Homo sapiens: one gene and its partners. The protein of the gene in region 1 binds, or shares a complex with, the protein of each later gene. Each region holds a gene or a part of one and is shown in the gene's direction. Other genes may lie near its edges.

The links.
Region 2: SMARCA4 (region 1) and SMARCE1 share a complex: the UniProt entries of both Homo sapiens proteins name them as parts of the BAF complex.
Region 3: SMARCA4 (region 1) and SMARCB1 share a complex: the UniProt entries of both Homo sapiens proteins name them as parts of the BAF complex.
Region 4: SMARCA4 (region 1) and PBRM1 share a complex: the UniProt entries of both Homo sapiens proteins name them as parts of the SWI/SNF-B (PBAF) chromatin remodeling complex.

What each region holds. Positions count from the first base shown.
Region 1 is NC_000019.10:10,956,325-10,964,029, forward strand, and holds the start of SMARCA4 (SWI/SNF-related matrix-associated actin-dependent regulator of chromatin subfamily A member 4), read left to right. Parts: upstream 1-4,705; 5' UTR 4,706-4,850; intron 4,851-4,985; exon of another isoform or gene 4,986-5,405; intron 5,406-7,705. UniProt on the Homo sapiens protein: ATPase involved in transcriptional activation and repression of select genes by chromatin remodeling (alteration of DNA-nucleosome topology).
Region 2 is NC_000017.11:40,637,270-40,645,053, reverse strand, and holds part of SMARCE1 (SWI/SNF-related matrix-associated actin-dependent regulator of chromatin subfamily E member 1), read left to right. Parts: intron 1-2,494; coding exon 2,495-2,599; intron 2,600-7,481; coding exon 7,482-7,562; intron 7,563-7,784. UniProt on the Homo sapiens protein: Involved in transcriptional activation and repression of select genes by chromatin remodeling (alteration of DNA-nucleosome topology).
Region 3 is NC_000022.11:23,824,966-23,832,749, forward strand, and holds part of SMARCB1 (SWI/SNF-related matrix-associated actin-dependent regulator of chromatin subfamily B member 1), read left to right. Parts: intron 1-259; coding exon 260-450; intron 451-7,784.
Region 4 is NC_000003.12:52,584,768-52,592,551, reverse strand, and holds part of PBRM1 (protein polybromo-1), read left to right. Parts: intron 1-3,296; coding exon 3,297-3,482; intron 3,483-5,041; coding exon 5,042-5,199; intron 5,200-5,863; coding exon 5,864-6,127; coding exon of another isoform or gene 6,128-6,139; exon of another isoform or gene 6,140-7,371; intron 7,372-7,784. UniProt on the Homo sapiens protein: Involved in transcriptional activation and repression of select genes by chromatin remodeling (alteration of DNA-nucleosome topology). Required for the stability of the SWI/SNF chromatin remodeling complex SWI/SNF-B (PBAF).

The sequences.
Region 1 (7,705 bases):
CCCTCCCCCACTTCCCGTTCCCTCCTCTCCCCTCCCCTCCCCTGCCCTGCCCTCTCCTCCCCTTCTTTTTTTTTTTTTTTTGAGATGGAGTCTCTGTCGCCCAGGCTAGAGTGCAGTGGTGTGATCTTGGCTCACTGCAACCTTCGCCTCCTGGGTTCAAGCGATTCTCCTACCTCAGCCTCCCGAGTAGCTGGGACTACAGGTGCTTGACACCACACCTGGCTAATTTTTGTATTTTAATAGAGACGGGGTCTCTCTTTTTTTTTTTTTTTTAGAGACAGACTCTCGCTCTGTCGCCCAGGCTGGAGTGCAGTGGCGGGATCTCAGCTCACTGCAAGCTGTGCCTCCCGGGTTCACGCCATTCTCCTGCCTCAGCCTCCTGAGTAGCTGGGACTACAGGCGCCTGCCACTACGCCTGGCTAATTTTTTTGTATTTTTAGTAGAGACGGGGTTTCACTGTGTTAGCCAGGATGGTCTCGATCTCCTGACCTCGTGATCTGCCCGCCTCGGCCTCCCAAAGTGCTGGGATTACAGGTGTGAGCCACTGCGCCCAGCTGAGACGGGGTTTCACCATATTGACCAGGTCTCGAACTCCATATTGACCTTGCGATCCCAGAGAAAGTGCTGGGATTACAGGCGTGAGCCACCGTGCCTGGTTGAGACAGGGTTTCACCATATTGACCTGGTCTCGAGCTCCTGACCTTGTGATTTGCCTGCCTCGGCCTCCTAAAGTGCTGGAATTACAGGCGTGAGCCACTGCGCCCAGCCTGTAGATGTTTTTTTTTTAAAGTCTGGAAGCCAAGGGTGTCAATGCAGACATGGGGCCAAGGTCCCAGGGGCAGTTCATTATTAAGAACTGTGCTCTTAATTGAGACACCTGGCAAATTTTGTATTGCTTTGTAGAGATGGGGTTTCACAATGTTACCCAAGCTGGTCTTGAACGCCTGTCCTCAAGTGATCTGCCAGCCTGGGCCTCCCAAAGTACTGCCATTATAGGCATGCATGAGCTACCACAACCGGCCTGTTTTTCTTTTTTGAGACGGAGTTTCGCTCTTGTTGCCCAGGCTGGAGTGCAACGGCATGATCTCAGCTCACCGCAACCTCTGCCCGCTGGGTTCAAGCGATTCTCTTGCCTCAGCCTCCCAAGTAGCTGGGATTACAGGCATGCACCACCACACCCGGCTAATTTTGTATTTTTTTAGTAGAGACAGGGTTTCTCCACGTCGGTCAGGCTAGTCCTGAACTCCTGACCTCAGGTGATCCGCCTGCCTCGGCCTCCCAAGTGCTGGGATTACAGGCGTGAGGCACCGCGCCTGGCCCGGCCTGTTTTTCTTTACACTATTGCATATTAGTGTGATTAGCATAAAAGACAATTAGAGAACAGTCATACCATCCACTCCATGGGCAGCAACCCTGCCTCCTCCATGCATTGCTGCAGGGTATTCCTAGCTCAATGCTTAGCATTTGGAGAGAGCATAAGAAATACTATTTGGCCGGGCGCCTTGGCTCACGCCTGTAATCCCAGCACTTTGGGAGGCTGAGGTGGGAGGATCACCTGAGCCCAGGAGTTTGAAACCAGCCTGGACGACATAGTGTGACTGTCTCTACAAAAAATTTTAAGAAAATTAGCTGAGTGTGGTGTCCCACCCTTGTAGTCCAAGCTACTCGGGAGGCTGAGGCAGGAGGATCGCTTGAGCCCAGGAGGTCGAGGCTACAGTGAGTACTGATCGTGCCACCGCAGTCCAGGCTGGATGACCCAGCAAGCCTGTGTCTCAAAAACAAAAACAAAAAAACAAAAAAATAACTACTTGAATGAATGAGGAATCGAGTTCAGATCCCACTTCTACTTGCTCACTTACTGTGCACTATTCAATAACACTAGCTGAGGATCAGAGAGCTAGCAGGTGGGCTACCTGCTGTCATGATTCCTCATAACCAAACAGTGGAAGTGGGAGCCATTATTGTTTCTGGTGGGTTTTTTTTGTTTTGTCTTGTTTTGTTTTTGAGACGGAATCTCCCTCTGTCACCAGGCTGGAGTATAGTGGCACGCTCGACTCACTGCAACCTCCGCCTCCTGGGTTCATGCAATTCTGCCTCAGCCTCCTGAGTAGCTGGCACTACAGGCACGCGCCACCACAGCCAGCTAATTTTTGTATTTTTAGTAGAGATGGTGTTTCACCACATTGGCCAGGATGGTCTCAATCTCTTGACCTCATGATCCACCTGCCTTGGCCTCCCAAAGTGTTGGGATTACAGACGTGAGCCACTGGGCCCAGCATTTTTTTTTTTTTTTTTTTTTTTTGAGATGGAGTTTTACTCTCGTCACCCAGGCTGGAGCGCAATGACATGATCTTGGCTCACTGTAACCTCCACCTCCTGGGTTCAAGAAATTCTCCTGCCTCAGCCTGCCGAGTAGCTGTGATTACAGGCACCTGCCACTATGCCTGGCTAATTAATTTTTTTGTATTTTTAGTAGAAACGGGGTTTCACCATGTTGGCCAGGCTGGTCTCGAACTCCTTACCTCAGGTCATCTGCCCACCTTGGCTTCCGAAAGTGCTGGGATTACAGATGTCAGCCACCGCACCCAGCCTTATTGTTTGTTTCACAGGTGAAGAAAGTGAGGTGTAGATGCTCTGGTAAACCTGCCTGGTATTACCCATGCATCACCCAGGTAGTAGAAATGGAGTCGTGTTTTAAACCCAGGTCCTTCTGGGGCCTGGCTTGGTGGCTCATGCCTGTAATCCCAGTGCACTGGGAGGCTGAGCCAGGAGGACTGCTTGAGCCCAGTAGTTTGAGACCAGCTTGGGTAACACAGCAGACCTCAGCTCTACAGAACATAACAGACAAAAAAAAAAAAAAAAAAAAAAAGCTGGTGGTGGTGGCATGTACCTGTAGTCACAGCTATTTGGGAGGCTGAGGTGGATCCCTTGAGTCCAGGAGTTTGAGGCTGCACTGAGCTGTGGTTACACCATTGCACTCCAGCCTGGGTTACAGAGCAAGACCCTGTCTCTAATAAAACAAACAATTAAACAAAAACCCACCCAGGTGAGGTGGCTCACGCCTGTAATCCCAACACTTTGGGAGGCTGAGGTGGGCGGATCACTTGAGGTCAGGAGTTAAAAACCAGCCTGGCCAACATGGTGAAACTCTGTCTCAACTAAAAATACAAAAATTAGCCGGGCGTGGTGGCGGACGCCTGTAGTCCCAGTTACTCGGGAGGCTGAGGCAGGAGAATCGCTTGAATCTGGGAGGCAGAAGTTGCAGTGAGCTGAGATCGTGCCACCTCACTCCAGCCTGGGCAATGGAGTAAGACTCCGTCTCAAAACAAACAAACAAACAAACAAACAAACAAACAAACACACAAAAAAGAAAACACACAGAAGAGGCCAAGAGGCTCAGGGCCTTCACTCTCGGAGGAAGGTTTCTCTCTTTCACCACCAGCCTGTATGCATTCAAACGTGTTCTTTGCAACGACGACTTCCGTGGCTGCCCTATTTAAAATGTCCATGATCCTCCCAGTGTTCACCTCACACTGTACTATTTATTTTTTTTGAGACGGAATTTCACTCTTGTTGCCCAGGCTGGAGTGCAATAGTACGATCTCGGCTCACTACAATCTCCACCTCCTGGGCTCAAGCGATTCTCCTGCCTCAGCCTCCCGAGTAGCTGTGACTACAGGCGTGTGCCACCACGCCCGGCTAATTTTTTGTATTTTTAGTAAAGACGGGGTTTCACCGTGTTAGCCAGGATAGTCTCATCTCCTGACCTCATGATCCACCAGCCTAGGCCTCCCTAAGTGCTGGGATTACAGGCATGAGCTACCGCGCCCGGCTAATTTTTGTATTTTTAATAGAGACGGGTTTCACCATGGTGGTCAGGCTCGTTTCTAACTCCCGACCTCAGGTGATCCGGCCGCCTCGGCCTCCCAAAGTGCTGGATTACAGGCGTGAGCCACCAAGTCCGGCCTCTCATACTGCACTATTTTGCTTATTAATCTTGCTTCTTGTCCTCCTTCCCCACTAGACCGAGGGCTCCACGGCGGCTGGGACACAGTAGCAGATCAATAAATATTTGCTAAGCTAATTAATGGCACTTGGGAAGTTTTGCAGAGAAGGCGGCCACGGTCGGGCCCCGCCTTGCCTCCCCAAATAGGCCTCGCCGCCCCAGGTCAGGGATCAAAGCGGTTCCCAGGCGCGCCCTTGGCCCGCGGGAAACCACTGCCCGGTCTTGGTCCAGGCGGCCCGTCCTACGGTCCAGGGTTCCTATTTCCGAGCCTCAGGGACCTCCTTTCCCCACGGACCCCACGGCCACCGGGATCCCATTCTCCAGTTGCCCCATCGTCACCGCGGCCGCCGCCACCGCCGCCGCAGTGGCGTCCGCTCTGCGCATGCTCCGGGGCGTCAAGACGCGAGGCGTGCAGAAGGCGAAGCGTGCGCAGGCGCGGGGCCATCGCGGCCCGAGTGGGGCGGTGCATCGGACGCGCGTGCTTCCTCCGGGCCACGCCCACCCCCGTCCGCCCAGGGACGGGCGCGCACGCGCGCCGGGAGCGGAAGGGCGGGCTGGCGCGCGCACGAGGCCGGGCAGGCGGCGGAAGCTGGAGAGGCCGCCGCGGTGCTGAGGGGGAGGGGAGCCGGCGAGCGCGCGCGCAGCGGGGGCGCGGGTGGCGCGCGTGTGTGTGAAGGGGGGGCGGTGGCCGAGGCGGGCGGGCGCGCGCGCGAGGCTTCCCCTCGTTTGGCGGCGGCGGCGGCTTCTTTGTTTCGTGAAGAGAAGCGAGACGCCCATTCTGCCCCCGGCCCCGCGCGGAGGGGCGGGGGAGGCGCCGGGAAGTCGACGGCGCCGGCGGCTCCTGGTAAGGAACGCGGGCCGCGGGGGCAGCGCGGCGCGGGGCCGGGGAGGGCGGTTTGAATGGAGCCGGGGCGCCGAGGGGGGAGGGGGCTGCCGGCGCGCCCTGTGCGGGGCCGGGGTACGGCGGCGCCCGAGGGTCAAGAAGCCCAGCCGGCAGCCGCGCGCGTGGGGAAGGCCACAGTGTCGCGAGGCCGTGGCAGCGGCGGCCCCCGCGGAGCGGCGGGGTGGGTGGGGGGCCCGGGCCGCGTGGAGGCCGCGCGATCCTCTCCGCGCGCGCTCTCGCCGGGGTCGCCGGACAAAGCTCGCCCCCCTCGCCCGGCACCCCTACAGTCGCCCTCCCAATTACAGCGGCTGCAACAATAGGCAGGCGTTGGGGCTTTTCTGGCTGCGTGGTAACGGGTCCGACCCGAATGTTGCGTTTTTGGCGAAGCTGCGATCGGGGCTCAGCCAAACCTCCAGATATGTCCGGCGTCGGCCGGACACGGGCATTAGCGGTCCCCTTGGGCTAGCCGACCTCAAATTGTCTTAAAAACGTGTCATTCCAGATTTTCAAGGAAAGGTAAAGGACTCCCCCGATGCCTTGCAGTTAGTGACTTCAAAATGTTTGCCCGAATTGGGGTTGGGGATGGGGTCGGCGGCAAGTAGGGGAGCACGGAGGAAATCCTTTGCTGTGTAAAAGCATTGCTTTTCTTTTGCATCCTTTTTTCTCCTTCCCAATTGGTTTTTCAGATTAAGGCTTTTATTTTCAACGTGGACCTTTTGGGCGAGTGTTTTGTCCCGATCTTGAAGATACCAGTCTTGATTTTTTTTTTTTTTTTTTTTGGTCAGTGACTCCTTGGGGAAAGTAGCAAGGGAATAAGCGGAAAAGCCGCTTCGCAGGAATTTGAAGCAAGTTTTCAGTTTGGATTGATAGGCTGCATTCAAGCTTGATTCCTGGTGCTGTCAGTCACTTAGCACACTGTCACTTTAGGGAAGTGGCTTAACCTCTCTGAACCTCTTAGTTTTCCTCCTTTGTGAAAGCTCCTTTGTGAAAGGGGGTAATCTCCCAAATGGAATTGGTGAAAGCCTGTAAAATGGTTCCTCGCAAGCGGGAAGCACTATTGTAATTGTCTGGTCCAATCTCCCTCATTGTTCAGCAGATAACTTCTTGAGGCCCTACTAAGTGTTGGATGGTCGGGGGTTGGATCCTGGAGCCTCTGCAGTCTTGGAGGGGAGCGGGTGGTAAATGTGGGAACAAACTCTCTTGGCCTATCGTTTATTGCTCTGAACCTGCACTGTGAGAGGGACACAGCGGACAGGCAGGGGATCGGTGGTAGCCAGAGATCACGGGGGCTGCTTGGAAGAGGGGGCCTCAAAATCAGGGAGGGTGTGTAGGATTGTATTTTGTTTTTGAGGCAGAGTCTTGCCTGTCGCCCAGGCTGGAGTTCAGAGTCCCAATCTCCGCTCACTGTAACCTCCGCCTCCTGGGTTCAAGCGATTCTCCTGCCTCAGCCTCCTGAGTAGCTGGGACTACAGGCGCCCGCCACCACGCCTGGCTAATTTTTGTATTTTTAGTAGATATGGGGTTTTACCATGTTGGCCAGGCTGGTCTCAAACTCCTGACTTAAGGTGATCCACCCACCTCGGCCTCCCAAAGTGCTAGGACTACATGTGTGAGCCACTGCGCCAGGATTGTATTTTGACTTTCCCTGGCCACCTCGGACTAGCCATTGTTCCCCTCAGCTACATTCATACATCAACTTGGTCCTTTCCGGTGTAGCTGTCACCCCCAGCACCGTGAGAGCTGGGGTTGTGTCTGCCTGGCTGGCCCCACAGTACCCTGGGCCTGACACATAGTAGGTCTTTAGCGAACTTATGTGGATTGAATGAGGGGGTCCTGTGGAAGATCGCGTGACCATCTGTGTAAAAGGCTTGGTGCAGGGCCAGGTGCAGTGGCTCATACCTGAAATCCCAGCACTTGGGGAGGCTGAGGCGGGAAAATTGCTTGAACCCGGGAGTTTGAGACTAACCTGGGCAACATAGTGAGACCTCATCTCTACAAAAAATACAAAAATTAGCCGAGTGTGGTGGCATGCACCGGTGGTCCCAACTACTCAGGAGGCTGAGGTAGGAGGACTGCTTGAGCCAGAGAGGTGGAGGCTGCAGTGAGCCATTCTTGTGCCCCTGCATTCCAGCCTGTGCACCAGAGTAAGACTGTCTCAAAAAAAAAAAAAAAAAAAAAGAAAAAGAAAGCTTGGTGCAGGACTGGGGGTGGATTGTAAGGGATACAGGTTAGTTGTTTGAACAGTTTTTGCACTTTCCAAGCCATTGTTTCCTGAACCTCAGTTGTCCTCATCTCCCCTACAAAGTGTGGGGTGGTGGTTAGCGTGGGGTGGTGGTAAGGAGTACTCATTCTGGAATCAGACCTCCTGAATTCACACCCAGCTCTCTAAATCGTAGCTTAACCTCAAGCGAGGCGCTTAGCAGTAGGGCCCCCCACTTGTGAAACAGGTAGGACGAGGATGCCCGAAACTTCACAGGCTTCTTGTGAGGGTTGAATGAGGTCACATGGGAAGCCGCTAACACACTGCTGCACCTGATGCGTAGTGAACACTTGATTTTTTTTTTTTTTTTGAGACGGAGTCTCGCTCTGTCATCCGGGCTGGAGTGCAATGCCCCTGTAGTCCCAAGCTCCTTGAGAGGCTGGGGCAGGAGGTACAGGCTGCAGTGGACCATGATTGAGCCACTGCACTCCAGCCTGGGTGACGAAGCGAGACCCTGTCTAAAAAAAGGAATAAAAATTAATTCATGCATAGTTAGGAAAGTAATAAATGGTTTTGCATGGGCCACCTAAAATCATTTTGTGTCCAGCCCTTTAGG
Region 2 (7,784 bases), on another chromosome or scaffold:
CACTCCATAAATTATATTTTATTGGTTTGGAAGTATATATGTTTTAAGTAGTTGTGAACGTGTTTTTTCACCCAGGAAGCTCTGGCCCAGCTTGGTCAGCATGTAAAATAATTTTCCAACCCACAAAACAGATTTAGCAGTAACTGTTCAGGTCTTGCTGAAATGGCTTCCTTGTTGGTTTTTTGGGAGGGGGGGTTTTGTTTGTTTTTAAAAAAACACTGTTAGCATGACCAAATTCTACAAAATTAGTTCTTTAATATTAATCCTTCCTTCCATACCCCCACCACCTAAATTTCAGGCTAGTCTACTTTTCACTACTAATTAGGTCCTTGTGTAACTTAGTTTTCTCCGCTAAAAAACTACTCATATTTACTAACCCTCAGATACATATTTTAGTTACATTTATCAACAATTTGTTTTTCTTTAGTGAGATACTTTAGAAAAGAGATACCGTACCATATGTTCTCATTTCAATTTATGTCATATACAGGCTCTAAAGTTAATTCCAGTAGACTATAAAGTCCTATGCTTGCTTTGTTTTCTTTCTTAAATCGAAGAACATTTGTTATGACCATCTCCATGGCATTCTGCTAGTGGCTATACAGGTGGAGCTGAACAATTGAGATTCTGACCTCAAAGAGCTAACCATGTACTTCAGCTTTGGAAATGGTATAATTATAATGTTTTGCTTTCCATTTTTTTTTTTTTAGTTCCCTTATTTTTATAACATTATTGCCTCATAATGTTGAACAGTGATTCTTATTATTTATGCTACCTTTGAAGGTGTCATTTTGACAAAAATACTGCCTCTGACAATGCATCATCTTGACAAACTTGATTTTTTGAGATTAAAATATTTCAAAAACCAAGTGTCCCCTTATAATTTATTATGCATAAAAAGGAATTTTTTTTGCCTTTCTTTAGTTATATTTTTGTGTCATTATAGTTTCACATTAACACACAAAATATAGAAGACTAGGGATTAAAACATCCAACAGAATGGATACTAAATGAATTATTCTTCTTCCTTTTTTCTTTCCATTACTTCTACCACCACCACCACCATCACCACCACTACCAACACTATCACCACTATCACCTCTGCCACCCAAATGTACCGCTGCAAGTAATATACACTTCTTTCATGCCTTTGATACTTCAACTGTGTTTTGCCTACTTAAATATGCTTTATTTGCGTCTTTTCTAACTGTATAGACTAGAAATTGATCAGCCGTTCTCTTTTCTCCTAAAGAGTATCAAATGTAATATCTGCTTAAATGTCTTTCTTTTGGGTACTAAGGATATGTGCAGCGGCATGTTTTAGGAAATTGTGTTTATTTTGTAACAGCTACAGCTTAGTTGGAATGTGTTAAGTGTATTTTACATTATACAATTAAGGACCGATATTGTTAATTGCATGTAAAAATGAAATTGTCACATATTTTGATTGAATTTTACAAGGTAAAATACCCTAATTTTGGTCTCTCTCTACTATATTCTTTCTATGCATTATGCCTTGGTTCTCATGAACATTGAGTGTCATTGTATTAGCCCCAAGGCTACTGCTATATAAGAGCCCATTTGTGATTACATCAACACATAATTCACAAAAACCAAGGGTTCTGTTGCTGAAATGAGCAGTTGTATTTTGAAAGGGTGAGAGCTATCAGGAAACTAGATGAAAAAAGAAGTCTATAAACTAGAAAAGTAGTTCACATTGAGACAAAATGCAGAAATGTTTTCATGATTGACCAGTGGAAGATGGATCAAAGAAGAAATGGAAGAGAAATCCTATAAAAGAATGACTGGGTTAAAAAGATCAGATAGTACCCCAGAATGAAATCCATGCATTTCTTACAAGTCTTTGTTTTAAATCATGTATGTGACATCCATCAAATCCAACATATGTTCTTTTCAATTGACAAATCCTGGCTTCCCGATTTGAGTCTCTACTCATTTCTCACATTATATAAAATGATTTAAAACTGTCGTTGAAATCAGATCCATTTCTTTTTTTTGTTTTTAGTAGATAAATACATTGGTGGCATCCACATGTCAAATAAATTGTATTTTGTTTTGCATGTAGTGTTTTCAGAGTTCTAGTTGATCACACTTCAAGCCTTCCTATTTCAGTCTTCATATATTGCTAAGTTGTTTTATCCTATTGTTGACCATAAAGTAATCCTGAATGTTTTAAACACTTCAGTGTGTTGCTTACCTCAAAAAACAAAACACACATTCACAGTCACACAAACACCCCCAGCCCCTGCAAAAAAGAAAGAGAAAAACAACCAAAAGACACTGCAGACAGGTTTCTCAATGAAAGAAAAATATTTAATTTCCTCAGTGGAAAAAAAGAACAATTACAACACATCATTGCTTGTTTAAATTCAGGTTGCTTTTGCATGCCATATGCAGATCATTTTTCATTTCTGTGTTTTCCTCGTTTGAGCTCATTTCTCATTCGTGTTTTTGTCTCATTTGTTTCCATCAGCAAATGCCCAGCACACCAGGGTTTGTGGGATACAATCCATACAGTCATCTCGCCTACAACAACTACAGGCTGGGAGGGAACCCGGGCACCAACAGCCGGGTCACGGTAGGAGAATCAACTATTACAGCATCCGGCAAACAACTGGAATTGACCAGAAATGCCTTCAGAATTAGGTCTTTTTGAATCATAAGCACAGCCATTTAAAAAAAATTTTTTAACCTAGCTTTTTGAGTATTTTCAACATTCGTTGTAGCATCTCACACTGAAAAAATAAATAGTGAGATCTGGAATGTATATAGAAGAAAAGAAAAATCCATTCTGTTTGGTGGTTGGTAGGGTTAAAGCCTTGAGCACTTGATGCTTATACTGTATGTAAACAAACAGAATTTCTTAAGGTAAAAATATCCTTTTTGACATAAAGAGTATTTTTCATTTTTATAAGGTGATTGGCATTAGTCTCAAGGATTGAGTTTCTAGTAGAGGCTGGTCTTTCAGACCTGGCTTTTTCAGGGCTGGAAAGCTTTTGGCTGGTACACCAGTTTGAATCGCTACCCATAGTTATTTGTCTTTTGGATTTAGTAGTTGACCTTCTAACTAAGACTCATTTCTCTACAGTGAAAAAGAGAAAAACGTTTTAATGTCACCTCAAAGAAATGCAGAGTGAAGGTTGAATGAAATTAATTTGAAGTATCAGACTAGATATGTACAACGAGAAGTGCATTTCTAATCCTTAGTATAAGAGATAGGATTTCTGAAACTTAGCATGTTTCATTTAAGTGATCAGCCTAAGATATCAAAATTGGATGATACACTTCAAATCTTTTAGTTTAGAATCATCTTAAATTTCATTCAAAAAAGTTTAAGCACCAAAAAATGCCAATAATTATAAAAATGACTTACTAAAGATAAAAAATCCAAAAGTCAAATACTACATTGGAATGTAGTGTTGGTGAGAATTTATACAACCCAGAATGGCTGTAAAGTTTTTAATACCTGGTTTTTGTTTGCTGTATTCATAAATAACAAGTGCCTTCTATTAATGTAACTTCAAAAAAGCCCTCTCACCCTGTAGTCAAGCTGGAACTGAAAGCTTGTAGCTATCAAATGAATGTCTATCTTGATAAGCATATTGCTTAGCTTGATAGGTTTTGTTTGTCTAAATTTTTCATTGTTTCTGCATAATATGTACTTCATAAGCATATCAAGTTTTATGTGCCATGCATATTTCATGGTATCTGAAAAAGAATTCTGACAAAGTGTGTGTATGTATGCATTTCACAATGCATACAATTTTTATGTGCATCAATACATGTTTTTCCCTGGCCTAAACATGTTGTTTCACAAGTGTAATGGATGGCAAGGTTTTCAAATGATAAAGAACATTTCAGTTTAAACAATGAACGGAATCAATCATGGATCTTAATGTTAATGCAGCAATTTTTTCACGGGCAGTAAACAAGAATGATTGCATTTAATAGCTCTATACAGTCACCTCTTGATTATCTATGTTAATGGAATAGAAATGATAACTATAATATTACAGTAATTTGTCTTTTGGTTTTGTGTAAGTATTTTGCTCTTAACTTGGATGTAGCTGTGGGGGATTCTCAGTTAAAAAAGTGAGATTGTTCGATGGAGACTAGGAAGAGAAAGTGTACTCCCTATCTGAAGTCACTCATCTGTTTCTTCCCATTCCTTCTTGGCGAATGTTAAGAACTGAACATTTGGCGTGGACACTAGCTACATAGTAGATTAATTATAGAGAGTTGTTGGACATGGAAAATTTGGTGTTTTGGTCCTTTGTGGACATTTACTTTGTATTATTGTCCTCTTAACACCAAATTGAAGTATAATCAAACTGCTATATGAAGAAGGGCCTAGAAAATGTGGAGGTTTTACACTACTTGCCCTGCTTTCTATATCTAGTTTAAGCTGTTAGGACTCAATGGCTCTGATTTTGACCATAATAAAAGCATTTTGATTTTACTATGACCCTAGTTATGCATTACTTTTGGGGGTGAGGGGAAGCTCCTGTATGGTATTGTTGTGCGCAGATTGCATTAGTGGTTTTCAAGGAACGAATCTGTGAAGCCCTGTCCAGTAGCTTGTGGTAGGCTGTAGAGAACATTGGGTTTCCCTGATGACTCCAGTATACTTGGGTAGTTCTCAGACAGTAAATACTTTGTATAGCATGTCGAGACCTTTTGGAGTGCTTATGATAGCTACAAGATGGAATTCACTCCTAGTCAGTTCTTCATTCAGATGATGATTAACATTCTCTTAAGTACAGGTGTGAAAACACATTGAGACAAAAATGTCTTTAAAAACAGCCTATTTCTGTACATTAATAGAAATTCTGCCCCAGAAGAAAGCTCTTAAATAAGTTCTTGCTAGAGAAACAGCTGAGAATTGCAAAAGAAACAACAACAAAAAACTGAGTAACCAAGATAAATTTCACAAAACCATGAACTTTATTCATAGGAGATTTCCTAGGACCTTGCTCTTCTGTAAGCACAGTTCTACCCGCCTCCCCATTGGAAATTGAAAGCAGAAAATTGGAAAGAGAGTTGCTGCTAGAGGTGGGTTTCCTGATAGTAGCAAGGAAAGAAACAGTTCAAAAATGGAAACACATTCTCCAAAAGCATAGCCCCTAGGCCGTTGAAAGAGTCAACAACAGATTTTGACATCTGACAGAGGGTTACAGCACAGCAAAACAGTGGTTGTTTCTAATTGAATCTTATCCAGAAAGGGTCTAAAGTATGTTCAGCTTTTTTTAAAGAAATGTTTAAGACATTGTAGAAAGATGTCTGTCTGAGACGTTAAATAAATTGGAGGTGTGTAATGATATAAATCTTTACTATCCTGAAAACCATCTGGAATTTAACTTTATTATTGTTTTGGGGTGTTTTTTTAGTTTGGGTTTTTGTTGTTGTTGTTGTAAGTTGACTGGTCTCAATATACAGATGATTTGTGTACCTTTCTTTGGGAGAAAGGAGGGGAAATAGCAATTCCATTAATATAAAATGTGATTCTTTGAAAAATATCAAAGAGCAAATACTACTGTGTTTTTAAAGTGTTTTAATTCATATTAAAGCTCGGAAGCATAGGCATTTTAGAATTCTTTACCTCTTTAATTTCAAAAAATTTTGACAGTGGTCTTACCACCTCAGTTATGGGCACAATTCCAACTTTATTTGTAATCCATTTCATGGAATTCTGAAGGTTTGTGTTGGATATGAGTTGGAAATACTTTCTAGTAACTTTATGTGTGAAGAAGCAGACTTGTGTGTGTCTGTTCCTCTGAATCCATAAGGTTAGTCTTATAGGAATTCTCTTTCCCCTTGAAAGAACTATAGACCCTGATACAGGTTTCCCTGTATTGGCTGCCCATCCTACCACTTTTGACAGTTTCCATGCCCCTGGCCATCTCACTCTCTTACCCACTGCTGGCCAAAAACAGTGTCTGTCTACCTGGGCACTAGCATGAGGTGTGACAAGAATGCATGGGAGGAATGGAAAGAGAGGAAATACTGCTTCCAAGGCGAAATGCTTTGAAGAAGTAGAGTTATAGGGATGGAGAGAGACCCTTGTAGGAAGAGGAAACATTTCTTGATCATAGTGGAAAAGGACACAAACATGCTAATCCCTGAGCCCTCAAATGAAAAATAAGGTTATGATTGGGGTCCCAGCCCAGAGTGGAGGAGTATCTCTGGGGTTTTATCATAGCAACAACAGAAGGGGAAGCGAACAAAATGTTACTTTAGTTTTCCTATAAGGATTTGCCAATCCTGTCTTTCGATAATTAAAATAAAGCCAACACTTCATTTCTCCAGCCTAGCAGGGAGAGTCAATATCAGAGATCTCCTGAAAATTTGCAAATTGTCTGAAATAGCAATGATTTTTCTTATTCTGGGTCTTTAATCAAATGCAGTCATGTATATTAACAGGAGACTAAAAAGTTCAGAAATAGATACTTTTAGATGGGTGTTATCTGGGTGGTCTACCAGAGGCTGTCTGGAATCTCACCTAGACTTTAAGCCACAGGAAAAACTGATCACTTTATCTTTCTCTTTCCTTCTTTTTTTATTTTTTCTTTCACCTATTTTTGCTTTACCTTTTTAAAAAATATTTTTCAGTCTTCCCTCCGCCTCCTTTTCTTCTGTCTCTCTTTTCCTGTACATCACATCTTTCCTTTTCCTCTGTCTTTCCCATAAAACTGAACATTTTTAATGGAATGGAGCTTCTTGATATAAGACCTCAAAAATAACGTAATCAGGCCCGATATCTGCCACTTCTCTGTTCCTGATAAACTTGTTTGCTTTTACACTGTGATTAGGACTCAGGACAAAACAATGTGTGACTTTTAATTCACACTTCTCATTCCCCTTTACAAGAAAACCACTAGGTAACAGACAGAACCTTAAGAGAAATAAAATCTCTAGCCTGGCAAAGGAGGTAAGGTGGTTTGTTATTTCACTAATTGTTTTTGTTTTTGAACCTGGGAAGTTGTTTTTGTGGTGGTGTTGGGAGTACATTCCTAGTGCTAATAGGTTAAGGCCCCTGTAGACAGTGTGAGAATGGTAAGTGTTAAGGGTTCAGATCCTGCTGCAGATAATCAAGTGTTGACTGTATGTGTAATGGTAATTGAGCAGAATAAGAGGGTACCAGGTAATGTCCTGAACTTGAGACGGTTGATATATAACCATATATTTTCAATGTATGGGTTACTGTGTAATATTTTATTTGTTCTTGCAGCCAGGTTGTCAAAGCATTGGCAATAAACTGCTAAGTAAAACATTTAAAAATTATGTGCTTAAAGTCATTTTCTTTTGAACATTTCTGAATTTGCAGTGATAGCTATTTTCAGTGAAGAAAATATTTGGACGAATAGAAGAAAGGCGCATTAGAATTTTTTAAGGGACTCTCTTTTCAGTTTGCCAGTGAACTCCTTACAGTTGAATAATGAATGTATTTAACTCTTTCGTAGGCATCCTCTGGTATCACGATTCCAAAACCCCCAAAGCCACCAGATAAGCCGCTGATGCCCTACATGAGGTACAGCAGAAAGGTAGGTGCTTAGGACCTGGTAAGGAGTGAGGACACTGTCTTTGCTGCTTCTTTGCTTAACATCCAACTTTAGATCGGCTTAGCCAGCTTTTCTGTGCATATTCAGAGGAAAGGTCCAAAAAAATACGGTTTTTAAAGCAATTAGTTCTGATTTCAAAATTCCAGAACTAAAATCCAACAAGAGGAGCGTGATTAAATAAACTGTTAAAATCCTTAAGATAGA
Region 3 (7,784 bases), on another chromosome or scaffold:
CTCAGGTGCCCCCGGGGTCACTTCAGGGCCTCCCGAGGGTGACTGTGCTGGGCCCTGAGCCAGAGCCCCTCATGGCAGACAGGGTTGTGGGGTCAGCCTTGTTTTGGGGATGGGGAACTGGAAGGACAAGGACCACCTGCAGTTCTCAGCTGGTGGACCCTGGTGGGCAGGGCCCACCCCAGGCCTGGCAGGGCCCCGCTCCTCGCGGCCTCCCTGGGCTGCAAAAGCTCTAACTTGTGTCCTTTGGTTGTTGCCTCAGCTGAACATCCATGTGGGAAACATTTCCCTGGTGGACCAGTTTGAGTGGGACATGTCAGAGAAGGAGAACTCACCAGAGAAGTTTGCCCTGAAGCTGTGCTCGGAGCTGGGGTTGGGCGGGGAGTTTGTCACCACCATCGCATACAGCATCCGGGGACAGCTGAGCTGGCATCAGAAGACCTACGCCTTCAGGTAGGATCATGCATGAGTCTCTCCCTCCCTCATCTCCCTGCAAAACTGTTTTGAGAAAGACTTCTCTGTGTGAGCGGTGATACCTTTGAGGCTTTCTCACGCTTCGCAGCACAATCTGGCTGGGGTCTGTGTGTTTGCTCCGTCCTCCTCCTGCCCTATGTATCTCTCCAGGGCTCCGCTGTGCCAGGTAGGGTTAGAAGCACCTAACACAATAGCTGGCAAAGACTTGGAGTTCTGTCAGGGTGAACCTCAAGTCCTTGCCTCCACGGAGCCCTGGCCTGCCCCCACCATCCACCATTCAGTTGTCCTGCCCCACACCCTCTCTCTCTGCTCTTGCCCAGACTGTTATTTTGGTCAGGGTGACCCCTGCCCAGGGTTCTTCATCTGTTGAACTTGAATTATGTCTTAAACACAAAGGCCCGCCCAGCTTTTGAGAGTCAGGGGTCCCTAGCAGCTCCTTCTTACTCTAGTATCTCTGCCTTTGGTCAGTCAGAGAGCATTTGATGAGTACCATGCTGGGCTGGACCCCATCCTGGCTGCCCTGGAAGATAGAGACAGGTCACCTTGATCCCTGCCTGTAGCATTTGGGCTGGCTGAGATGGTGGAAGTGTGAACAGAATATTCCAGTCCAGTGTCCTCTGTGGTAGGGATGGGGATGGACCCGGGAGAGGCCCTCCTGTTCCTGGCAGGAGGTGGGACTCAGAGTTAAAAGTGAGGTCAAGGCCCAGTGCGATGGCTCACACCTGCAGTCCTAGCACTTCGCGGAGCTGAGGTGGATCACCAGAACCCAGTAGTTCAAGACCAGCCTGGGAAAAACATGGTGAGACCCCACCTCTACAAAAAAAAAAAAATAGAAAAAATGAGCCGGGCATGTTGGTACATGCCTGTAGTTTCAGCTACTCAGGAAGCTGAGGTGGGAGGATCGCCTGAGCTCAAGAGGTGGAGGCTGCAGTGAGCCAAGATCACACCACTGCACTCCAGCCTGGGTGACAGAGCGAGACCCTGTCTCCAAAAAAAAAAAAAAAAATAGCGAGGTTGAACTCTCCCGGCTCAGCAGGACTCTAGGACTGGGAAGCCCCGTGGTTCCTCACCCTGTCCTCTGTGTTGGGATGGGGTGGGGGTGCAGCAAGCATCCCTACATCAAAACAGGATGTTCAGATTTAGTCTGCTCATCAGACTATCATCATCCACATCTGCAGTCATCACTCAGGGATGACAGCTTAAAATGCTACATGAGGAGCAAATAGGAAGGTCTGTTTTGCAAAGCCATGACAATTAATGGAGCTCGTTAGGTTTGTGTCTAACTTGTTTTCCCAGACATCCCAAGAGACAGCTTTCTATGACTTCCCATAAATCTGAGCAAGGAAGAAGGAATGAGAGCCACCCACGGGGCTCAAGGGCCCGGGCCTGGGAAACAGCTGAGTCCCTGCCTGAGCGCCATGGTGCTGAGATCCTGTGACCTGCCCCCCAGCAGCCCTGCCAGTCACATGGTTCTGCTTCACAGACAGGGCAGCCCAGAGAGGAGGCTGGGGGGCTGGTGTCTGATGCCTCCCTGTTCCCTCGGGGTGTTGCCTGGGAGTGCAGCTGTAGCGTGCATTCACCCTGCACAGAGCCAAGCCCTATGGCCGGAGAGCCAGTCAAGGGTGGCCTCCCTCCACCAGAGTTGACTCTGAGGCCCCGGGAGGCAGTCATGTTGCGCGCATCAACACTGAGCACCTCCTCCCGCAGAGGCTGATCCAGTCAGAACCCTCGTCTTGGGCTCACAGGTGCAGGTGGTAGGCTGGCTGCCCCCAGCATCCAGCCCCTACGGTGTTGACCTTCACCTAGTCCTGCAGCCGCTGCCAGTGCCCACAGTCCAGGGTCAGGAACTGAAGTCCCCGGGGCCTCTTGACAGGTCCTTGCAACATCCCTTCTTTCAGCCACCATGGCACCATCCCTCCTGCTCTGACCCGAAGGTGACCTGAGCCTAAATTCCTTTCCAAGTTCCGGGCCCTCTGCAGTTTGCAGAGTGGCTCCAGAGCAGACCCCCTGGGGAGTCCCTGGTGGTGGCAGGTCAGGATTTAGAGGCAGAGGCGGGCCCCTTCTTTATCTCATCGACCACTTAGTGCATTCCAGTTGCAGGGCCTGGGGGCATCACAGACCCCCTGCCCCCTGCTCTCTCTTATGCTGAGAATGCAGGTTTCAAATCTTTGGGGTTAAAGGCAAAGGCCATCCCGCTGGGACCAAGGTGAGCACACGTCCCTATCACAGCAGCCAGATGGAGAGGCGGCCTGCCTGGGGAACTGGGAAGTGTCCTGAGTGGGCTTTTAGCATCAGGAGGGCTGCGTGTGTCTTCCCAGTCCCCACACTGGAAGACAGCTGCAAGGATAGGACAGGGCCTTAGGGTTGGGCTGTCATCCCTGACTCCAACTCGCGTTCCCCCCACTGTACCACCCCACCCCATGGGATCTTAGGAGGGACTTCGTTTAACTCTGTCCCCAGGGAGACCAGTGTCAGTCCTGCCTGGCCCTGCCTGGGGAAAGGAGGCTGGGCCACTGAGTCCCCAGGTCCAGGGGCCAGTCAGCCCACAGAGAGCTAGACCAGGAGTCCTGGCCTGGTCTCTGCCACACAGAAAGCTTGGCAACTGCTGTGTCACATGACTTTTTGTTTTGTTTTGAGATGGGGTCTCGCTCTGTCGCCCAGGCTGGAGTGCAGTGGCGTGATCTCGGCTCACTGCAAGCTCTGCCTCCTGGGTTCACGCCATTCTCCTGCCTCAGGCTCCTGAGTAGATGGGACTACAGGTGCCCGCCACCACGCCCAGCTAATTTTTGTGTTTTTAGTAGAGACGGGGTTTCACCGTATTAGCTAGGATGGTCTGGATCTCCTGACCTTGTGATCCACCCATCTCGGCCTCCCAAAGTGCTGGGATTACAGGCGTGAGCCACCGCGCTCGGCCACATGACTTCTTAAGAAGGGTTTTCAGGCTAGGCATGGTGGCTCACGCCTGTAATCCCAGCACTTTGGGAGGCCGAGGTGGGCGGATCACCTGAGGTCAGGAGTTAGAGACAGGCCAACATGGCAAAACCCCGTCTCTACTAGAAGTAGAAAAATTAGCCAGGTGTGGTGGTGGGCACCCGTAATCCCAGCTACTCGGGAGGCTGAGGCAGGAGAATTGCTTGAACCCGTGAGGCGGAGATTGCAGTGAGCTGAGATTGCACCATTGTGCTCCAGCCCGACAGAGCTAGACTCCATCTCAAAAAAAAGGGTTTTCAGCTCTGGACCTAGGTCACTCCATAATGGAAGCACTCGCTGATTCCCCAAGAGCCAGTCCCTCCATCTCTCCCAGCCAGAGCTCAGTGCCTGACTTCCATACCCTCCTCGGCAGTGGGGACATTGATTGGATCCATGGTACAGTGGGGCAAGCTGCTGGCCACAGGACATGTGTGTGCAAGGCCACTATGCCCACACCTCAGGGGAACCAGGGCAGAGAACAGCCTGTTCCCTTTGGCAGTGGGACAGACAGGAGACAAGCATGAAGGGGAAACAGGGGCATGTGACAAACTGGTCAGAAGCCCTAGGCTCCTAGAGGACAGACTGGGACCAGAGTGACACAGGCGTCCCAGAGCCAGTGGAGTGGGATGAAGGGCCAGCGAAAGGAGGGAGACAGGGCTCAAGGGGAAGGAGGCTGGGCTAGGCAGAGCCTCTGAGGAGAGCTGATCCTGCAAAGTTACTGGCACCTCCCCTGGGCCAGCCCTGTGTTCCTGGCCAGGGACGGGAGGAGACAGTGCCCTGTCTGGCAGAGGAAACAGATTCATGTGCATGACTATCAGTGTGCCATGGCCACAGAAAGCACCGGAGGCTGTGGGCATGAGGAAGGGCAGTTGGGGGCATAGAACCTGGGGTGAGGATGGCCAGGGCAGGTGCTGATGGGGGACTGCAGCAGGAAGGACCGAGAGGAGACCAGGGACAGGCAGGTGCTTGAGAAGGAAGGTGGGCCCTGTGGATCAGGCAGGGTATCTGCCCCAGGGGGCTCTGCACACCAGCAGTCCTACACGTACAGGGTGGGGATGAAAAGAGACTAAGGGTCAGGGAGCTTGGTAGCTGGGCCTGCATGAGGGACAGAGAGGCAGTGTCCCTCTGATGGCACAGCATCAGGAATTAGGCTGGGGTATGTCAGGTACACGTTGGGCTGGTTGAGCGTAAGCCTCAGGTTCCTTCCGAAGCTCTGCCCGCCAGCCCTGGCCTGATGTCAGGTTTTGTTTGTTTTTTTAACAGCTTTATTGTGATATAATTCATAAACCATACAATTCACACATTTAGAGTATATAGTGCAGCGGTTTTTGATATATGCAGAGAGCTGTGTAACTATCACCACTGTCAATTTTAGGACTTTTTCATCACCCCACTGCAGGCAGTCCCGTTCCTCCCCGCTGTCTCTCAGCCCTAGGTGTCCACTCATCCACTTTCTATCTGTAGATTTGCCTATTCCGGGTACTTCATAGAAATGGAACCATCTAATATGTGGTCTTTTATGACTGGCTTGTTAGCATAATGTTTTCAAGGATTATCCATGTTGTAGCATCTTTTATCAGGACTTCATTCTTTTTTATGATTGAATATTATCTCATTGCATGGATATACCACATTTTATTCATTCATCAGCAGATTGACTTTTGGGTTGTTTCCATTTTTCAGCTATTGTGAGTACTGCTGCTGAGAACATTTGTGTATGAGTTTTTGTGTGAACATCTGTTTTCAATTTTCTTGGATATATACCCAGGAGTAGAATTGCTGGGTCACGTGACAACTCAGTGGTTAGCATTTTGAAGAATTTCTAGACTGTTTTCCAAAGTGGCTGCACCATTTTGCATTCCCACCAGAAGCGTGCGATTCCCGTTTCTCTGGATCCTGCTGGCATTTGCTGTTCTCTTTTTGATCGTAGCCGTCTGAGGAGGTGTGAAGTAATTGTGGTTTTGATTTGCATTTTTCTAATGACTGATGATATTGAGCATCTTTGCATGTATTTCTGGCTGTTTGTGTATCTTCTTTGGAGAAAGTGCTTTGCTAGTTTCTTAATTGGGTTTTATTTTATTGTTGAGTTGTAATTGTTCTTTATATATTCTACATAGAAGTCCCTCATCAGATAGATACATGATTTGAAGATATTTTCTCTCATTTGGAGGATTGCCTTTTCACTTTCTTGATAGTGTTCTTTGAAGCACAAAAGTTTTCATTTTGATGTAGTCCAATTTATCTTTTTTTTTTTTTTTTTTTTTTTTTTTTTTTTTGAGACAGTCTCGCTGTGTCACCAGGCTGGAGTGTAGTGCTGTGATCTTGGCTCACTGCATCCTCCGCCTCCTGAGTTCAAGTGATTCTCCTACCTCAGCCTCCCAAGTAGCTGGGACTACAGGCACCTGCCACCACACCCAGCTAATTTTTTGTTTTTAGTAGAGACGGGGTTTCACCATGTTGGCCAGGATGGTCTCCATCTCTTGACCTCATAATCCGCCCGCCTCGGCCTCCCAAAGTGCTGGGATTACAGGTGTGAGCCACTGCACCAGGCCTGTAATTTATATATTGTTTTAGTTTGTTGCTAGTGCTTTTGGTTTCATATCTAAGAATCCATTGTCAATCCAGAGTCATGTTGCCCCAGCACCATGTTGAAAACTGCTCTTCCTCCATTGAGTGGACTTGGCACCCTTCTAAAAATCATTTGAGGCTCCTGGCGGCCTCGGAGGTGTGAATTGCAAACATAAGGGTGACACCAAGTTTTGGCATCTCCCCTTCCTGGTCGAGTGGCTGTGGACAGGTCATTTTCCCTTGAAGTCTGTATTTTGTCATTTGTAACTTGGGGATAATACTTGTGTGTTGCATCACATGAGGTCATGAAAGTGAGATCACATTGAAAGTAAACCTCAAGATACTCGACCGGCATCAGTCCTGGCTCCCTCTGTCCCTCAGACGTGAGCATCCCCTGCCTGGGTATCTTTGTCCCCACCTGGACACTTTGGGTGGTAGGAAGGTCTGGGGTCCCTGGCGGCTTCGAAGCCCGTGAACCAGAATTCCCTGGAAGGAATGGGGAGCAGGGTGGCTCCCAGGGTCCCCAGCACTCTTTGGAACTCAGGACAGCATCTCCATGCCCACATGCCCCCAAAACCCAAGGCAGGCTAGTGCTGGCTCTAGGCCCGTTCTTACATGGTTGGTGCGAGCATTTCTTACTTTAGAACAAACCCACTGGAGTGGAATATTCCCAGCATCAAGGGGAGGTAAACAAAGGACCCTCTGGGACCCACTCGCCAGCTCTTGTTTAAGAGGAAAACATGTTTTGCTCCCCTCGTTGTGGGCTTGGTACCTTTCACGTCTGCCCTCCAAGGAAGGCTGCTGGGAGCCCTCACGGTGAGGAATGATGTTTGGGGTCTGAGGCTAGGGTGGTCCCTAGACTGCTAAACCACCCGGTGCTGGCCAGGGACCAGCTGTCAGGAGCTGCTGAGGATGGGTCAGCCCCAGAGGGTGGGGGTGCCGACATTGCCTCTGGCCCTGCCTCTGCGTCACCAGTACGAGCTTGAGCTTCTGCGACTCATGAGCATGGACCTGGTGGGCTGAGCTTCAGCTGTGAGGGGTCAGGCCTGCTGCAGGGAGAGCCAGCTGCAGCCAGTGCCCTGCGCTGTGCCCACAGTCCCTGAGACCCCAGGCTGAGGAGAGCAGCACTGAGCCCAACCTGGAACGGGCTCACGGCTACTGGAGCTGGGTGTGTGCTCACTGGTGTGGATGTGCAGAGCCGGGACTCGCTCTGCAAGCAGGCTGGTCCCACAACCTTGAGCCACCCACTACAGGGAGGCTGTGAGAAGGTCCCTGGCCCCTAGGAAGCTCCCTCAGTGGAGATGTTTTGGCTGCTTTAATAACAGTCATCCTTCCAAAGCCCTTCACAGCAATAAATGTTTCCATATTCCAGATGAGGTTTGCAGGGACCTGTCCTCTCTATCAGTGTCCACCTGGCGCCTCCCCCGAGTCCGGCCTGCCCTTGCTTCTCCCAGAGCTCATGGTGTTTTTCAGGGCCGCAGGCTGGCAGGGTGTCCTTCTCCCAGGGGACTGAGCCTAGGGAGAGCCAAGTGGAGGTGCCCAAGTGGAGGAGAAAGGAAAGGACCACAGAGAGGGGAGGGGAAGTGGGAGAGTCATGGTTAGGACCTCAGGCTGAGGCCTTCTGCCAAGCCAGGGGTCTGGTGTCACTCAACTGGGAAACACTGTCAGCACCCAAAGCTGCTCTCAGAGGTGGGGGTGACGGGACCACTGCATGTGGGAGGCACACGGGCCCTGTGGCATCCACAGCTGTGGTCTCCTTAGTGTCCTGTCACAGA
Region 4 (7,784 bases), on another chromosome or scaffold:
AGCAGTATATCAAATAGCTAATCCACCATGGTCAAGTAGGCTTTATCCCTGGGATGCAAGGTTGGTTCAGCATACGCAAATCAATAAATGTGATTCATCACATAAAAAAGAACTAAAGACAGCCAGGTGTGGTGGCTCATGCCTGTAATCCCAGCACTTTGGTAGGCCAAGGTGGGTGGATCACCTGAGGTCAGGAGTTCGAGACCAGCCTGACCAACATGGTGAAACCCTGTCTCTAGAAACAATACAAAAATTAGCCAGGTGTGGTGGCACGCACCTGTAGTCCTAGCTATTCGAGAGGCCGAGGCAGGAGAATCACTTGAACCCAGGAGGCAGACTGCAGTGAGCCAAGATCGCACCACTGCACTCCAGCCTGGGCGACAGAGCGAGAATCCATCTCAAGTCTTAAAAAAAAAAAAAAAAAAAAAACCTGGTGCAGTGGCTCACACCTGTAATCCCAGTACCTTGGGAGGCTGAGGCGGGTGGATCACAAGGTCAGGAGTTCAAGACCAGCCTGGCCAAGATGGTGAAACCCCATCTCTACTAAAAATACAAAAATTAGCCGGGCATGGTCGTGGGCACCTGTAATCCCAGCTACTTGGGAGGCTGAGGCAGGAGAATTGCTTGAACCTGGGAGGCAGAGGTTGCAGTGAGCCGAGATGGCGCCACTGCATTCCAGCCTGGGCATCAGAGCATCAGAGCAAGACTATGTCAAAAAAAAAAAAAAAAAAAAAGGCCGGGCGCAGTGGCTGACGCCTGTAATCCCAACAGCTTGGGAGGCCGGGGCGGGTGGATCACGAGGTGAGAAGTTCAAGACCAGCCTGGCCAAGATGGTGAAACCCCATCTCTACTGAAAATACAAAAATTAGCCGGGCATGGTGGTGGGCATCTGTAATCTCAGCTACTCAGGAGGCTGAAGCTGGAGAATTGCTTGAACTTGGGAGGCGGGGGTTGCAGTGAGCCGAGATCATGCCACTGCACTCCAGCCTGGGAGACAAGAGCAAGACTCCGTCTCAAAAAAAAAAAAAAAAAAAAAAAAACAAAGACAAAAACTACATTATCTCAATAGATGTAGAAAAGGCTTTTTGACATATTAAAAACTCTAGATAAACTAGGTATTAAAGAAACATACTTCTAAATAATAAGAGCCATCTATTACAAAGCCACCCAACGTCATGCTGAAATAACCAAAAGCTGGAAACATTCCCTTTGAAAACTGACACAAGACAAGAATGCTGTCTCCCACCACTCCTATTCAACATAGTACTGGAAGTCCTGGCCAGGGCAGTCAGGTAAGAGAGAGAAATAAAGGGTATTCAAATAGGAAGAGGGAAGTCAAACTACGTCTCTTTGCAGATGACTTAATTCTATATCTAATAAACCCATAGTCTCAGCCCAAAAGCTCCTTCAGCTGATAAACTTCAGCAAAGTGTCAGGATACACAATCAGTATACAAAAATCACTATCATTCTTATACACCAATAGCAGCCAAGCCAAGAGCTAGATCAGGAACGCATTGTCATTCACAATTGCCACAAAAAGAATAAAATACCTGGAAATACAGCTAACCAGGGAGGTGAAAGATCCCTACAATGAGAATTACTCACTGCCCAAAGAAATCAGAGATGACAGATGCAAATGGGAAAACATTCCATGCTCATGGATAGGAAGAATCAATGTTATTAAAATGGCCATACTGCCCAAAGCAATTTACAGATTCAGTCCTAATCGTATGAAATTACCAATGACATTCTTCACAGAACTAGAAAAACTATTTTAAAATTTAGATAGCCAGGCACGGTGGCTCACGCTTGTAATCCCAGCACTTTAGGAGGCTAAGGCGGGCAGATCACTTGAGGTCAGGAGTTCAAGACTCTGGGTGACAGAGTGAGACTGTCTAAAAAAAGAAAAAGAAAATTTAATGTTTCAGGAGGAATAAAATAAATAACATTTAAAATGCTTATTATTAGCTCTTCCATTTATGGGAAATTAACCTAAGGAAGTAATCAAAGATTTGGGCAAAGCTTTATCCTCAATAAAAACCCTGTGATATTTGCAAACGATAGCTTGTACTGGAACTTTTTTTTTTTTCTTTTGAAATGGAGTATTGCTCTGTCACCCAGGCTGGAGTGCAGTGGCCTGATCTTGGCTCACTACAACATTCACCTCCCAGGTTTAAGCGATTCTTCTGTCTCAACCTCCCAAGTAGCTGGGACTACAGGCACCTGCCATCATGCTGGCTAATTTTTTAATATTTTTAGTAGAGATGGGGTTTCACCATGTTGGCCAGGCTGGCCTTGAACTCTTCTTGACCTCAAGTGATCCGCCCGCCTCGGCCTCCCAAAGTGCTGGGATTACAGGCGTGAGCTGCCGCTACCGGCCTGTACTGGAACTATTAATAAGTTTTACTTAACAAAAATAAAAGTCATCTGGGCGCGGTGGCTCACGCCTATAATCCCAGCATTTTGGGAGGCTGAGGCAGGCGGATCTCAGGTCGAGAGATCGAGACCAGCCTGACCAAGATGGAGAAACCCCATCTCTACTAAAAATACAAAATTAGCCAGGCGTGGTGGTGCATGCCTGTAATCCCAGCTACTCGGGAGGCTGAGGCAGGAGAATTGCTTGAACCTGGGAGGCAGAGGTTGTGGTGAGCTGAGATTGTGCCATTGCACTCCAGCCTGGGCAACAAGAGCGAAACTCCGTCTCGAAAAAAATAAATAAATAAAAATAAAAGTCATTTTGAAAAGCATTTCCTCTCAGGGCTAGTGTTCTTGATATATTAAGTATATATACTAGATATAGTTTATAGTATATTGTAGAATATATGTATTCTATATTTCTTCAATTCTAAGACTCCATTAAATGTGTCATATTCGTGTAATAACTTAGTGAAATGAAACACATTAAGAAGCATTAAGGTGGGGATGAAGTATATCAGAGATTATCTCTAGAATTACTTGATTCGAAACGACATACGTACTTCTTTGTGCCTTTCGATATTATCCAAAATGTCCATATGATCATATATTAGTAAGGTGATGTTTTTATTCTCTACATCCTTTGTGTAGTTATATATTCATTTAAATTAATGATGGTTGTAATTCAAAGATAGTTTTGAGTAGAGGCTATTAGGAATGTGAAGATCATACTATTGCTGATTCCTGCCTTCGCATGTTGCAAATGGAATTAAATGTATTAAATGTATTATTAGTATGTGTTGTTTGAACCCTACATCTGACTTCAGCATCCCTTTGGTGAGTACCTTTTTCCTTTATTTATTTATTTTTTTACCTAAGAAGCTGAAAAGAGTGAAGATTCCTCTGGTGCTGCAGGCCTCTCAGGCTTACATCGCACATACAGCCAGGACTGTAGCTTTAAAAACAGCATGTACCATGTTGGAGATTACGTCTATGTGGAACCTGCAGAGGCCAACCTACAACCACATATCGTCTGTATTGAAAGACTGTGGGAGGATTCAGCTGGTAAGTTTGTTTTAAATCAAAGGACAGTTTAGTGAGATATGACTGTTTGACTTCTCCTTGCTCCTCAGGGAAGAAAATTTTAACTCAGACATCTTAAGCCTTTCCATAATAATTGTTCAATATGTCAATAAATGTAAGTAAGCACCCATCATATGAAAAACATAGGACCTATTGGGCAAGTGTCACAGTTGAGTCAAAAGAAATACAGCTTCTAGGTCGGGCGCGGTGGCTCACGCCTGTAATCCCAGCACTTTGGGAGGCTGAGGCGGGCAGATCACAAGGTCAGGAAATCGAGACCATCCTGGCTAACACAGTGAAACCCTGTCTCTACTAAAAAGATACAAAAAATGAGCTGGGCCTGGTGGCGGGCGCCTGTAGTCCCAGCTACTCGGGAGGCTGAGGCAGGAGAATGGCGTGAACCCAGGAGGCGGAGCTTGCAAGGGAGCCGAGATCACGCCACTGCACTCCAGCCTGGGTGACAGAGTGAGACTGTCTCAAAAAAAAAAAAAAAAAAAAAGAAAGAAATACAGCTTCTTAAAGTCTGGTTGAGATTCATTCATTCATTTGATACTTATTAAAAACATACTTTGAGCCAAACTTTATGTAGAGTGACATAGATTCAGAAGAACAAAAAGCTCATATTTTCCCTTGCAAAACTACTCCAGTAAGGAAGATTATGATCAAAAAAGAAATTATTATAGAATGACATGCCTTGGCTTAGCATTTGTTTTCAAAAAGGCTTTCTAGAACAGTTGCCTTTAAATTGAGACATGGAGTATGCATAGAAATTAATGAAGCCAGAAGTTGGTGGAAATGTGATCCAGGCAATCCAGTTCTTTGAGCTGCCTATCACATGAAATACTTTTGTATTCCTTCACCAGAGAGCTAAATATGTCCTTCAGTAGCATATCTGTCCCCTTACTAAAGTGCACAACTCTAGGTATGTACTAACCAGAGCAGAGTGGAGCAGGTCTCATCACCTGTCCTCCTCATTATGTACTTTATATGGCTTTTAATATGAAGAAGAGCCTGGGCAACATGGCAAGACCCCTTCTCTAGAAAAAATAAGAAAATCAGCAGGGTGTGATTGCACTTGCTGTGGTCCCAGCAACTTGAGAGGCTGAGGCAGGAGGATCACTTGAGCCCAAGAGGTTGAGGGTGTATATATATATATATGAGGGGGGAAAAGTAGCATGCATTTTTTAGGCCTCATTACACTTTATTATTTTTGAGTATTATTTCTCCTGTGGATAATTATATTAAACTGTAGCTGTAAAAATAAGCACAGTGCTAGGTTCATGTCATGGCAGAGTGGATTGATGGTGTATTTCCTAATTTTGCAAAGAATGTGTGATTTCTGAGCTGGACACAGTGACTTATACTTGTAGTCCCAGCTACTCAGGAGGCTGAGGTTGGAGGACCACTTTGGCCCAGGAATTCAAGTCCAGCCTGGGCAACGTAGTGAGACCCAGTCTCTTTAAAAAAAAAAAAAAAAAAAAGTGATTTCTGTTAACAATGATTCTCTTTCTCTTCCCCTTCCCCCACCCCCCATTTTTGAGGTGAAAAATGGTTGTATGGCTGTTGGTTTTACCGACCAAATGAAACATTCCACCTGGCTACACGAAAATTTCTAGAAAAAGAAGTTTTTAAGAGTGACTATTACAACAAAGTTCCAGTTAGTAAAATTCTAGGCAAGTGTGTGGTCATGTTTGTCAAGGTAAGAAACTCATTAAATCCCAAAGTCTCACTCATTCCCTAGGAATAAAATTTTAAAACACAGAAAATAATCGATGTTTACAAAATTAGGAACTCTGTTTTAAGCTATTTTTTAAGCCGTGTCTATATAGCTATATGAAAAGATTTGGGAAGAAATTAACCTGAACTTCGTTGTGAAAGACCACTTGCTGCTTACACTATTTGGCTATAATGCAGTTAGGTTAAGTTTTTAATATTGCCAGGCTAATTTTTAAGTATGATGTTTTTTTAAGGATAATCATTACAAATTTTCAGTTTGTTTTTTAGGTAATAATGTGTGCTTTTGTGTGTCTGTCTGATACACACACACAAGCCCTCTTCAAAGCTTTAAGGAACATTATAGCTATATGAAATGTTCATATGTTTTCAAAGAGCAATTGTAAGCTAAATGGAATTATTTGTTTTTATAATTTAAAGGGTGTGTATATAATAAGTCCATTCCGTAGCCAAAGAAATACTTCTAAATCTCTGGTCATTTATTATTTTTTGTTAACTGCCAGAAAGTCTGTAATCAGTTCAGCTTTTGTTTGGTTGGTTGGTTATTTGCTTTTTTTTTTTTTTTTTTTGATTGATTTTCAGAAAATTCACCTAACTAGTTTTATTCTTATGCCCTCCCCACCCCCCAGGAATACTTTAAGTTATGCCCAGAAAACTTCCGAGATGAGGATGTTTTTGTCTGTGAATCACGGTATTCTGCCAAAACCAAATCTTTTAAGAAAATTAAACTGTGGACCATGCCCATCAGCTCAGTCAGGTTTGTCCCTCGGGATGTGCCTCTGCCTGTGGTTCGCGTGGCCTCTGTATTTGCAAATGCAGATAAAGGTGATGATGAGAAGAATACAGACAACTCAGAGGACAGTCGAGCTGAAGACAATTTTAACTTGGAAAAGGTATGCAGATAATAGCCACACAGAAAAAATTTTACATCTCAAAACACCTATTCCAGAAAATAAATGAATAAAGTATTCAAACTTAGAAAAAGAGCAACAACACAAAACCTTAGCCAAACAGGAAGAAGGAAACTATAACAGAAAGAAATTTACACTTTCAAAACTGTACATTATAATTTAAAAGTAAATCAGGCCAAGTGCATTGGTTCACGCCTGTAATCCCAGCATTTTGGGAGGCCAAGGCGGGCAGATCACGAGATCAGGAGTTCGAGACCAGCCTGACCAACATGGTGAAACCTCATCTCTACTAAAAATACAAAAATTAGCTGGGTGTGGTGGCGCGTGCCTGTAATTCCAGCTACCCAGGAGGCTGAGGCAGGAGAATGGCGTGAACCTGGGAGGCGGAGGCTGCAGTGAGCTGAGACCACGCCACTCTACTCCAGCCTGGGCAACAGAGTGAGTCTCTGTCTCAAAAAAACAAAAAATTTTTTTAAAGTAAATCTAAGAGCTAATTATTTGACAAGTCCAATTAGATAAACTGCCAACTATCTAATAATGGGAAAAGAAAGGGGTTAAACTTCGACACAAAATGTGGAAGAAGGCCAGGCGCGGTGGCTCACACCTGTAATCCCAGCACTTTGGGAGGCCAAGATGGGTGGATTACCTGAGGTCAGGAGTTCGAGACCAGCCTGGCCAACGTGGTGAAACCCTGTCTCTACTAAAAATACAAAAAATTAGCTGGGTGAGGTGGTGGGTGCCTGTAATCCCAACGGGAGGCTGAGGCAGGAGAATCGCTTGAACCCAGGAGGCAGAGGTTGCAGTGAGCCGAGATCGTGCTATTGCAGTCCAGCCTGGGCAACAAGAGCGAAACTCTGTCTCAAAAAATAAATAAATAAATAAATGTGGAAGAAATGTAAAGACTGTATATTTCTGCTAATAAATTTGAAAACCTAAATAAAATGGCTAATTGTCTAGGATATTACAAATTACCAAAATGGAATCAAGAAGAGATATAATACAGAATGTACAACAACATGAAGAAATTTTTTAAAGTATCATAGAACTGACCCCAAAGAGTACTGAGGTCAGACAGTTCCATAGGTGACTTTTTCTTTAAGGGACCTATGATTATTATACTGTTGAAGCTGTTTCAGAGCAGGGAGAACAAGAAATTTCCAGTTTGTTTTGCAAAGCCAAGATAATCTTGATTTCACAACCTGAAAAATAAAAACAAAAAACTGCAACTCAGTCTTATTCATGTATATTGATGCAAAAATTACTTGGGGGAAAAAGTAAGTGAAATCAAATTACTTCTTTGAGAACAACATGACCAAGAAGTGGGAATTCATTCTAAGAAAGCAAGAATTGTTCAAAGTTAGGGAGATCTTTAAATTTCATTCATTATTCCATTAGATCAAAGGAAAGATTATTTGGTAGAGAACCCATCTTGATTTTTTTTAAGACTTTCAATAGGTATTTCTTCTAGTGTAATTTTTTTTTAAATTCATATTTGTGTCTCAAGCCTGAAGCCTATAAAACAAATTCCTTTTTAAATTTACACACTGGACAAAGGGGCTTACTGTTCTAGTGTTACTTAATATTTTTTGAAATTAGCCAATGTAGTTAGATAAACAAAAGCAGTAAAAATATTGACAAT